2 separate regions of the Homo sapiens genome follow, and region 2 is linked to region 1. The links come from fine-mapping of genetic effects on gene expression. A gene starts in region 1. The other region holds a variant in brackets. All regions are shown on one strand. Distances are between the middles of the regions.

What was found. PIP is the estimated chance that this variant, and not a neighbour inherited with it, causes the effect.
Region 2: its variant is the best candidate, but not a certain one, in a credible set for the expression of ARHGAP35 in whole blood (INTERVAL, PIP 0.80).

Annotation. Positions count from the first base shown.
Region 1 is chr19:46,858,205-46,863,571 of GRCh38, forward strand. ARHGAP35 (Rho GTPase activating protein 35) reads left to right here and starts at 2,793. Exons shown (of 7, transcript NM_004491.5): 1 at 2,793-3,005. LOC124904791 (translation initiation factor IF-2-like) reads right to left here. Exons shown (of 4, transcript XM_047439803.1): 2 at 4,918-5,004; 3 at 2,853-3,116; 4 at 1,385-2,692. The coding sequence ends at 2,021. RefSeq lists a silencer at 2,562-3,101.
Region 2 is chr19:46,962,290-46,967,656 of GRCh38, forward strand. All of the region lies in intron 3 of ARHGAP35 (Rho GTPase activating protein 35), which reads left to right. Among named protein-coding and RNA genes, the nearest start is that of NPAS1, 55 kb to the right of the region's middle. RefSeq lists an enhancer at 623-1,822. The variant TTTTG/T (reference allele first, on the strand shown) is at 3,177.

The DNA of each region.
Region 1 (5,367 bases):
TGGCCAACATAGTGAAACCCCGTCTCTATTAAAAATACAAAAATTTGCCAGGTGTGGTGGCACACACCTGTAGTCCCAGCTACTCGGGAGGCTGAGGCAGAAAAATCGCTTGAACCTGGGAGGTGGAGGTTGCAGTGAGCCGAGACCTCGCCATTGCACTCCAACTTGGATGCCAGAGTGAGACTCCATCTCAAAAAACAAACAAACAAACAAACAAAAAAGACTGTTGCGGCCAGGCTCAGTGGCTCACACCTGTAATCCCAGCACTTTGGGAGGCTGAGGTGGGTGGATGGCTTGAGGCCAGGACTTCGGGACCAGCCTGGCCCGAACAGGTGAAACCCTGTCCCTACTAAAAATACAAAAATTAGCCAGATGTGGCGCCTGTAGTCCCAGCTACTCAGGAGGCTGAGGCAGAAGAATCACTTGAACCCGGGAGGTGGAGGTTGCAGTGAGCCGAGATCACACCACTGCACTCCAGCCTGGGTGACAGAACAAGACTCTGTCTTGAGAAAACAACAAAAACAAAAATTAGCGGGGCGCACGCTGGTAATCCCAGACTCTGCCTCAAAATAAAAAATAAAAATAAAAAAAGACTGTTGCTTGGCACGAAGTACTCATTTTTATTATTAAAGAACGAGGGATCAGGCCAAATCTGGGAGACTACCCTGAGAAGGTGACTTCAAGCTGAGAGTTGAAGGGTAAATCAGAGCTGATGGGCTCCCAAGGGGTTTGGGGGATCCAGAGTGAGCCCAAGCGTCCTTGTTCTCCAGATGCTGCCAGCTCACAAATTTAAGATTGAAAAGACTCGGAACACTGCATAGGCGTTGTAAAGACATTAATTTGAAATACAGGTATCAGGAATTCACTGCCCCCCACCTTGTCTTTCCTGTGTCTCCTCAAGTAATCTCAAAAGTCCCTTACACATCACGGTTTGTAATGACAGTCCACGCACTCGATTTGGCAGCCCCGCAGTGCTTAAAGAAAAGTTGTTGTTGTTTCAAGCCACTAACATCTAAAAATCAGACTGAATGCATTAAAAGTGCCTTTTTTTTTTTTTTTTTGAGACGGAGTTTCCCTCTGCTGCCCAGGCTGGAGTCCAGTGCTATCTCTGCTCACTGCAACCTCCGCTTCCCGAGTTCAAGCGATTCTCCTGCCTCAGCCTCCCGAGTAGCTGGGATTACAGGCGCCCGTCACGACGCCCACCTCATTTTTGTATTTTTAGTAGAGACGGGGTTTCATGTTGGCCAGGCTGGTCTCGAACTCCTGACCGCAAGTGATCCGCCCGCCTCGGCCTCCCAAAGTGCTGGGATTACAGGCATGAGCCACCGCGCCTGGCCCTAAAAGTGCTACATTAAAAAAAAAAAAAAAGTCAATGGAAACATCCTTTAATATAAAAATCTTTATTAATGGAATAAACAAGCCCCTGTAATTTTATTTATCAACGCTTACAGAGCGCTTACTATGTATGCAATGCATGATTTCAAGAGCTTTGCAAAATATAATCTATTTAATTTTCACAGCAGCCCTACGAGAGAGGTACGATTATTATCCCATTTTATAGATGAAGAGACTGATGGCAGAAATGCCAAATGTAATAGGAAACAGCCTTTCTTCATGCATTCCACAAATATTGGCTCGGCGCCCGGGAAGCTCATCTTCCACGATCTGTACTTCCGGAGGAGTCCCAGAGGAACACCTCCTCAGTTCAGAGGAGTCAAGGGTTACAGCGGTGCCCTCTCCCATCACTACTCTTTTCCCTTCAGGCGCCCTAATTGACATTCGATTTGTAGCCATTTGCACAATGCTAAGTGACAGGCTTGGGCTGCACACAGGACCAGGCCGTCTTCCCTCTCCTGGGGATCAGTCGTTCACAGAACCAAAAACAAGTTGCATGGACGCGCGCGTTGGCTGCAGATTTTCTTCACAGCCAGGAGAAAGAGCACGCGCTCTCCAGCCCCGCCTCTTCTTCCGGGACGACGAATTGCGGGGCTCGGATTGGGCTGAGGCGGGCCACGCCTCCTCATATCCTCCAATCAACTCCCTCTCTGGTGCGCTCCCTCCTTCTCAGCCCCGCCCCACCGCCCCACGTTACGTCGCTCCTTCTGGCCTCCTCCGTTATCCCGGCGGCTGCGGCTCGCGCGGCAAACCCACCTCCCATTGCTTCCCATTGGCTGGTCAGGTCCCGCGCGAGCGGGATCGCGCCCTTCGCCCCCCACCCCCAAAACCGGGCCATGCCTCTCTCCTTCGGCTTTCTCCAGGAGCCAGCGCGAGGCAGTAGATCGGCTGCTTGAGACGCGCGCGCAGCTCCTGCGGACCACTCCCTCCGCCCTGCGCCAGCAGCTGCGCCGGCTGGCAGCCCCCCGCGCACGCGCGCTCGCCCATCCCGCTCCCTCTGCTCGTTTGCAAGTCGCCTCGCGCTCAGTCGCGACGGCGGCCGCCGCAATAGCGGCATTTTCGGGGGCGCACGCGCACTGCACCGTCCGCGGCCGTTCCTAACCTCAGGCAGCGGCTGTGGCAGTAAGCCCCTCGGGTGCGCACGCGCTCTGACCTCTTCCCACTGCCTCGCTGGTTGTCCCTTCGCGGCGCGCGCCCAGGGGCCGTTATACCCCTGCAACGGTCCACGCGCCGCGCACGCGCAGTAGCGAGGGGGCGCGCGCGCGGGAGCGGCCGTCGCAGGAAGGAGGTGCCGCCGCTGCCGCCATTGCGAGGGAGGGAGGGAGGGAGGGAGTGAGCGAGGCTGGTCCGCCCTCCCCCTGGTTGCCGCCCCTCCCCCCTTCCCCTCCCCGCCCCCCGCCCCGAGGGAGAGCCGCGGCGCGGCGGCAGGAGGAGGTGGAGGAGGCGGAGGAGGGAACCCGCGAGGGAGGGTCCGCCCGGCCCCCCGCCGCCGGAGCCGCCGCCGCCGCCTCAGCCGCCGCTGGACTAGGAGCAGGGGAACATGGCGCCGGGGCCCCCGTCGTTGCTGCCGGGATTTTGGAGGCCGGGGCCGCGCTGAGGGCGCCCAGCTGGTGAGTGCGCGAGCTCACGGGCCCCGGGCGGCGAGGCCGGGCGCCGCCCCGCTGCGGGGTCCAGGGGGAGGCGGGGACGGCGGGGCCCGGAGCCCGCGAACAATGGAGGAGCTGGAGGGGGAGGGGAGGAGCGGCCCCCCCCCCAGCCCCCCGGGCCCCGCCGTCCCCGTCGCTTCGCGCGTCGGCCCGGCCCGTGGGGCCCTCCTGCCCTTTGGACCTGCCCCTGCCCGCCCCAGCCCTGCTGTCCCCGCCGCCGCCCCCATCCCCGACCCGTTGGGATCTCGGTGTCTGCCTCGGAGCCTACCCGACTTCAGCCAACCGGTTCCCAATTCTGCGCCCCCCTTCCCCCTTCCACCCCTCCATAATGCCCTTCGCTCCTCCCGGGCTCTGCAGTGCTCCTGGGACCCATCTTCTCCTCATTGACCATTCTGCATCTCTTAATTGTGGCTCCCACTTTTGAGATCCGTGACGCTTCTCCCTCTTCTCGATTCTGCTCTCACCACCCTTCAGATCTGTCCTCGGCCCCTTCTTTGACCTACCTTCTGTGCTATTATTCCTGTCTCAGAATCTGTTGCACCCTGGGAGCTGTCCCTTTAGGACCTGCGGTTCCAACCCTTTGGAGATCCATCTGAGACCCCTGTTCGGCCAGGCACTGCTGCCCCAGGTCTTCCCCTTGGACTGAATCCCGTTCCCTCGTGGGCCCTACTACCCGCATTTCTTGTCTGCCCTCTCGCAGAGCCTGCTGCACCCCGGGATGCCCCTCGGCTGGCTTTCTGACCCTTCCGTGCCCCAGCTCATTCCCCTGATCCCCTCGGACTTGGCTGCACCGTGCTTGCCTGTTCCCCTTCTCAGCTCTTGTTCCCGTTTACCATTCAGACCCTTTCCTCTCTTCCAGACCTTTCTGCCTCTCAGCTCTGCCCCTTGCCCGACCTCAGATCTTGCTGCGCTCCCCTCACCTGCTTGCTTCTGACTCTGCCTTCCCGGGAAGCAGCCTCCTCCCCCTTCTCTGACTCTGCAGGTCTCCCATTTCTGCTATTCACTTAAATGATGTATCCCTAACTCAGACTGCCTTCAGTTTCAGCCCGTGTTCTCTTGGAGGTTTCCTCTCTTCCCCACCTCCTTTTTGGCACTCCTCTGAGCTACTGCATTCATTTGCTTCTCCTTTCTTTGGCCTGTCTCTCCTTCAGTTCTCTGCCTGAAAACTGCTTCCTGTCCCCTCTTTGCTCCAATTCCTCTCCTCCCCGTTTTAGCCCTTAGACATGCCCTTTAACCTCACTATACCTCTGATACCTCCCGGGCTGGTCACCCATCCCCTTCCTGTTCTGCATCTCACAGACCTGCCCCTAGATCCATTTTGTACCTACACTTTCTTCTCGTTTTTTTCAATTCTGCTCCATCCTCTTTATTTAGTGTTTCCCTCCCCAGCTCGGCTCCTTCGGAGCTGTCCACTTGCCCGCATATTTTTAGACCGGTTTTTAACTTCTGTATTGCCGTCCTTTCTTGGAGCGGTCCTTTAACACTGGGGTTCTTGTCACTGTGTCCCCTCTCTGTTCCCTCCCGAGTCTTTTAAGTTTTCCACATGACAGTCTCTTCCCCCCACCATTTTGATTCAGCCCTCACCCTTCACTCTGCTTTATTTGCCCACCCTCCACTGTTCTGCCTCTTGTCTTCTTTTGGAGTTCTCACTCCAATTGTGACATTACGATGTCTTCTTAATCATTCTTTCCTATGTATTCCCCCCCACCTTCCTCTTGGAGCTGCCTCAGTGCTGTGATAGATTATCACTCCCCTTTGATATCCCTCTCCCAATTCTGTTCCTCTTGGACTTGTTTCCTTCCTCACCTTTTTTTTTTTTTTCCTTCCCCTTGTATCCTGCCAGGCTCCTTCTCTTCCCATTTAGTTCCTATCAGACCTGCTCCTCGCAGCTCACCACCCGTGGCCCACCCATTCCCCATTGAGCACTTCCCCTTTCAGGCATATCTTTCTTTCCATCCCTCTGCTGCAGAGGCAAAGGGGCTGGATTGGGCCTTAGGCTCTCCAGGCTCTGAGACTGCAGATTCTCTCTCTGCGCCCTAACCCTGAGGGTTCTCTCCCCAGGGATCCTGAGAGATCTGGGTAAATAGGTGGGGGTTGGTTGATTGTTACTACTCTCTGGAGTCTGGGAGTGTCTCCCCCATTTCCCCCACTTCCACTAGGTTAGTAGTGTGGGGGGAGGTAGATCTTTTTCCATTGCCCCATTTTCTTTCCTCTGCTGTTTGCTCTCTCCCTTCCTATCTCTGGGCTTTGCAGCTTTGTGTCCTTTGGAAAAGGGGATTGCAGCTGCTCGCAGATCTTTATTCTCTTTCTCACTTTCCCTCCTTCC
Region 2 (5,367 bases), 100 kb after region 1:
GCAGCTCAGGGTTTCTGAGAGCCTGTGCAAGAAGCCAGAGCCCTGGCCTGCCTTGCCAAGACTGGCTAGTGATGTTGTTGGCACTTGGAAAGGCCGTGAATGTGTGACAATGTCTCTCACCTTGAGGCCCCTGAAGAATAATGGAGAGTCTCAGAGCCAGCTCATGTGTCAAATGGAATTTCTGGTTTTATAGCTTATGCTCTTGTGTTTAGGGCAGAAATTCTAGCACAAGGCCTCACACCCAGGCAGTAGACAAGGGTGGGGAAGTTTCTGATGGAGAAAAGTTCGGTTCTCTGTTACTCTGGCCAACCTCTCATTCTTTTGTTTTTGTTTTTGAAATGGAGTCTCGCTTTGTCGCCCAGGCTGGAGTGCAGTGGTGCGATCTTGGCTCATTGCAACCTCCACCTCCCAGGTTCCAGTGATTCTCCTGCCTCCTGCCTCAGCCTCCCACGTAGATGGGATTACAGGCATGCACCACCACACCCAGCTAATTTTTGTATTTTTAGTAGAGATGAGGTTTTACCATGTTGGCCAGGCTGGTCTCGAACTCCTGACCTCAGGTGATCCGCCCGCACTTGGCCAAAGTGCTGGGATCGCAGGCATGAGCCACTGCGCCCGGCCTCAACCTCTCATTCTTAGTCCTTTTTCTCACTGCATCCTCATCCTTCCCGTTTTGCTGCTGCTTCCTACTCCTTTTCAGGCTAGCCTATTTCAGAAAATTTTATCTTTTTTAGTAAAATTATTTGCTCAGAATAAAAATAAAGCAGATTTCTGTTTCATTCTTCCTGGGCCTGCTTTGGGAGGGTGGTGAGTGGTGAACTCCAAGGAATTGTTTGCATGGTGTGCTACCCTGATGGGAGATTCTCAGCGTCCAGGATTCCTTTACTTTTCTGTGGGGGTTCTATCTGGAAACCTTATGTGACTCAGGGCATAGTATGATTTTGAGCACTTCCTGTGGTCAAAAACTGTTGTCTTTGATTGGAAATTATGCTGTGTTCTGAGTGCTTGCTGGCACGCACACACTGTTGACTGCTTGTTCTGGTAGCACATCTGCGTGGGGTGCCTTAAAAGTGGGCACTCTCTCAGCAGAAAATTCCCATGTGGGACCTCAGTTCAAGCCCCTCCTCACTTTCATCACTTTCTTCTCTTTTGCTTCCCTTCCTCTGTGCCTTCACTCCTCCACACTGGCCTCAGCAAATCCCATCTATTTTCCAAGCCCCATCTGAAAGCGTGCCTCTTCTCTGATGACCATCCTTGTTGGAGCTGACTTTGCCGTCCCTCCTGTGGACATCCATGCCAGTTGTCTGTGTCATCTGTTTAGCAGTCATCTGGTCCTAACTTTTAGCTTATCTTTTATTATATCTAAGTGTGATCTAACTTTTCACCTTTATCTTGTCTCCCTGTCACCTCGAAAGAGGACACGACAGTGCTGTTAATTTTTCTATCTCCCATGGGACTTAATCGGTGTCCTCCACGTAGTATGCTTTAATAATGGTTTATTGCTGTGATACTGCTTCACAAATGCCAGCAGATGCCATGCTGTATCATCAGAGATGAGATTATTTTATTTATTTATTTTTAATTTTTTTATTTTTTGAGATGGAATCTTGCTCTGTCACCCAGGCTGGAGTGCAGTGGCGCAATCTCGGCTCACTGCAATGTCCGCCTCCCAGGTTCAAGCAATTCTCCTGCCTCAGCCTCCCGAGTAGCTGGGATTACAGGTGAGTGCTACTACCCCCAGCTAATTTTTATATTTTTAGTAGAGACGGGGTTTCACCATGTTGGCCAAGCTGGTCTTGAACTCCTGACCTCAGGTGATCCACCCGCCTCAGCCTCCTGAAGTGCTGGGATTACAGGCATGAGCCACCGGACTCATTATTATATGAGTCATTATTATATGCCCAGACAAGATTATTATAAATTTAAATTTAAATTTGTAATTTATTTTGTGAACCTGAGCAGGTGACTTTTTTTTTTCTTTTCTTTTCTTTTTGAGACAGGATCTTGCTCTATCACCCAGGCTGGAGCGCTGCAGTGGCGTGATCATGGCTCACTGCAGCCTTGACTGCTTGGGCTCAAGTGATCCTCCCGAGTAGCTGGGACCACAGGCATGCACCACCAAGCTTGGCAACTTTTTAAAATATGTTTCGTAGAGATGGGGTCTCACCATGTTGCCCAAGCTGGTCTTGAACTCCTGAGCTCAAGTGATCCTCCCACATCAGCCTCCTAAAGTGGTGGGATTACAGGTGTGAGCCAGCATGCGCAGCCAGTGGCATCATTCTTTAAGTCTACTTTTACTCCATAAGCCAATCTCCCATTGAAAAACTGACAAAAATAATTCTCAACTTTCAACTGGTTTCAGCTGACCCTCTGAATGTGGGATAATATTTGCTTGATAGGGCAGTTTCAGTTCAGCAGAAGGGCTGGTGTGGCTCATTGGAGCTTATGGAAGGGGGTTCTACCAGGGTAATAAGGTCAATATGTGAATCCTTTGATAAAAAAGAAATGGGCACAAGCCAACATGGACCCAGAGAGAGAATAAAAGTCTTAAAAACTTGCAGAAATGAACAGTCCTGGTAGGTCTTTGGTAGCCTGTCCAAATACAGAGCATGGATCTAAAGTGATTTCTTTCCCTTCATATGTTTATTCAGTTATCATAGTACTACCTTTTGATAGCCTTCCCCTATATTTTGTGACAATTACTTTATCAAATATTCAGTTCTTAAAATTGAGTCTTTTTAGGCCAGGCGCGGTGGCTCACGCCTGTAATCCCAGCGCTTTGGGAGGCCGAGGCGGGCGGATCACCTGAGGTCAGGAGTTTGAGACCAGCCTGGCCAACATGGTGAAACCCCGTCTCTACTAAAAATACAAAAATTAGCCGGGCGTGGTGACAGGTGCCTGTAATCCCAGCTACTCAGGAGGCTGAAGCAGGAGAATCGCTGGAACCCAGGAGGCAGAGGTTGCAGTGAGCCGAGATTGCGCCATTGCACTCCAGCCTGGAGGACAAGAGCGAGACTTCATCTCAAAAAAAAAGAGTCTTTTCTAAGATTTCTTTTGTTTTACTGATTTTACTTTCTTGTTTTTATACCAAAATCATGTTTCCTAAATTTTTACTCTCAAAAGTGCTTTAATAGCTGGTAAAATTCAACTTTTTCTCTGGGTCTTTTTCTTGGGTT[TTTTG/T]TTTGTTTGTTTGTTTGTTTGTTTGTTTGTTTTGAGACAGGGTCTCACTTTGTCACCTAGGCTGGTGTGCCGTGGCACAGTCATGGCTCATTGCAGCCTCGATCTCCCAGGCTCAAGTAATCCTCCCACCTCAGCCTCCCAAGTAGCTGGAACTTCAGGTGCACACCACCATGCTCAGCTAATTCTTGTATTTTTTGTAGAGATGGGGTTTCGCCATGTTGCCCAGGCTGATCTCCAACTCCTGCGCTCAAGTGACTCTCCTGCCTCAGCCTCCCAAAGTGCTGGGATTACAGGCGTGAACTGCTGCACTCGGCCTGGATTAATCTTTTTCAACTCCATGTTTCATTCCCATAATTGCTGTCTTTGCCAGAATATTCTTTAGCCTCACAATGTTTAGTTTTTACAATCCTAAAAGAATAATTGAACACCTGTTATGTGTCAGTTCCATTAGATGCTGGAGGCTAAAATATGAATAAGATAGTTCATATTGCCCCCTAGAAGGACTCTTAGTCTTCTCTGGTCAAAACCAAGTCAATAAAGGAAGTATTAGTTGGAAACCCTCAGTCTCCCCAGCCTCAATACCTAGCTTCACTTGTACATCCAGCAGCCCCTGGGGTCTACTTTGCAACCTTCCAGTTTGCCATATGTGATATTTTCTATTGGATCTTTTAAAGATATTTTTGGTATTTTTTTCTTTCTTTGCAAAATATTTATACGATTTTTGGTATTATTTTATTTAGTGCATTTTAACCATTCCATTGAGATTTTTATTTTATTTATATACAAAATGCAATTGAGGCCAGGCGCAGTGGCTCATGCCTGTAATCCCAACACTTTGGGAAGCTGAAGCAGGAGGATTGCTTGAACCCAGGAATTCAAGACCAGCCCCAGCAACATATCGAGACTCTGTCTCTACAAAAAATTAGAAAATTAATCAGGTGTGCTGGTGCATACCTGTAGTCCTGGCTGATTGGGAGACTGAGGCAGGAGAATCACTTGAGCGTGGGAGGTTGAAGCCATGGTGAGCCATGGTTGCACCACTGTACTCCAGCCTGAGTAACAAAGCAAGACCCTGTCCCCCACCCCCAAAAAATGCAATTGAACATCTTTGTAATGTATGGTCCTTCATTTCAAAGTCATGACACCTCTCTGCTTTTTTTCCTCTTCTCTTTTTTCTTGTGTAGTCATTACAGTTGTTTGTCTTACTTTCTAGGGTTGATGGGATGGAGTGAGTGTAATAAGTTAGTCTATAATAATATTTCTGGCCTATCAAGTACAAGGCATTTTTGAAGCCAAGAAGATCCTGAGGAAGCCTGAGGCCAGCCCCCATTGGAGATGACTACACACATCAAAGAGAAAATTAATATCTCTCCACAGTCAGTTTGCCCAGTGCCCATGAGGCTGCAGGGGTTAGTGCTGCAGAAGTCAGGGAGCTTGCTTGCTTGGAGTCTGGGATGGAGGCTTGTCCTTAAAGATACACTGGATTCTCTAACAGGATGGGAGGAATAGTCTAGGTGTGGAAAGTCAACTGAATGAGAGTCAGGTGTAGAGGTGAGAGGCCGTGCTGACCACGTAGCCATATTGCCCTAAAATCCTTTGAACGTCAGCCTCCAGCAATTGGACTTGGCCTGGGCTTTTCAGATTTTTTTTTTTTTTCTCAGATCCCTAGAATTGTAAGGGAGTCCTTCTGCATGGGGACGGGAAAGGTCAGGCCACCAGGACTCTGGATCCTTCAGCCTTAAGGTTCAGTTTAAGATTTCATTTGGAAGAAGGATTTTCTCACTCCTGAGAAAGCTTGTCAGCCCTCACCGTTACCATTTGCGGGAAGGTAGGGTTTGAAGGTTTTCATCCCAGAGAATCTGCTGACCTGAGTCAACAGCATGTCCTCCATGGGGAGGGGGTCTCTCCCTTGTTACCTTCCCACACCAGTCAACCTCATCAGTCAGTCCCATTGTTTTTACCACCTAAGCGTGTTTTCAGCCTGGCCCCTGCCCCTGCGTTTAGTCTCTCACCCTCTTCTTGGTTTACTGTGGTAGCCTCTTTGTAATTGACCTTCCTGTTTCTGGTCTCATGTCCTTTCAGTCCCTTATGCACACTGCTGCAAATATCTTTCCAAAATAAATGGGATCACTTCATCTTCACCTGCTTAAAACTCATCAGTGGTTCTGTATCACTCTAGGATGAAGT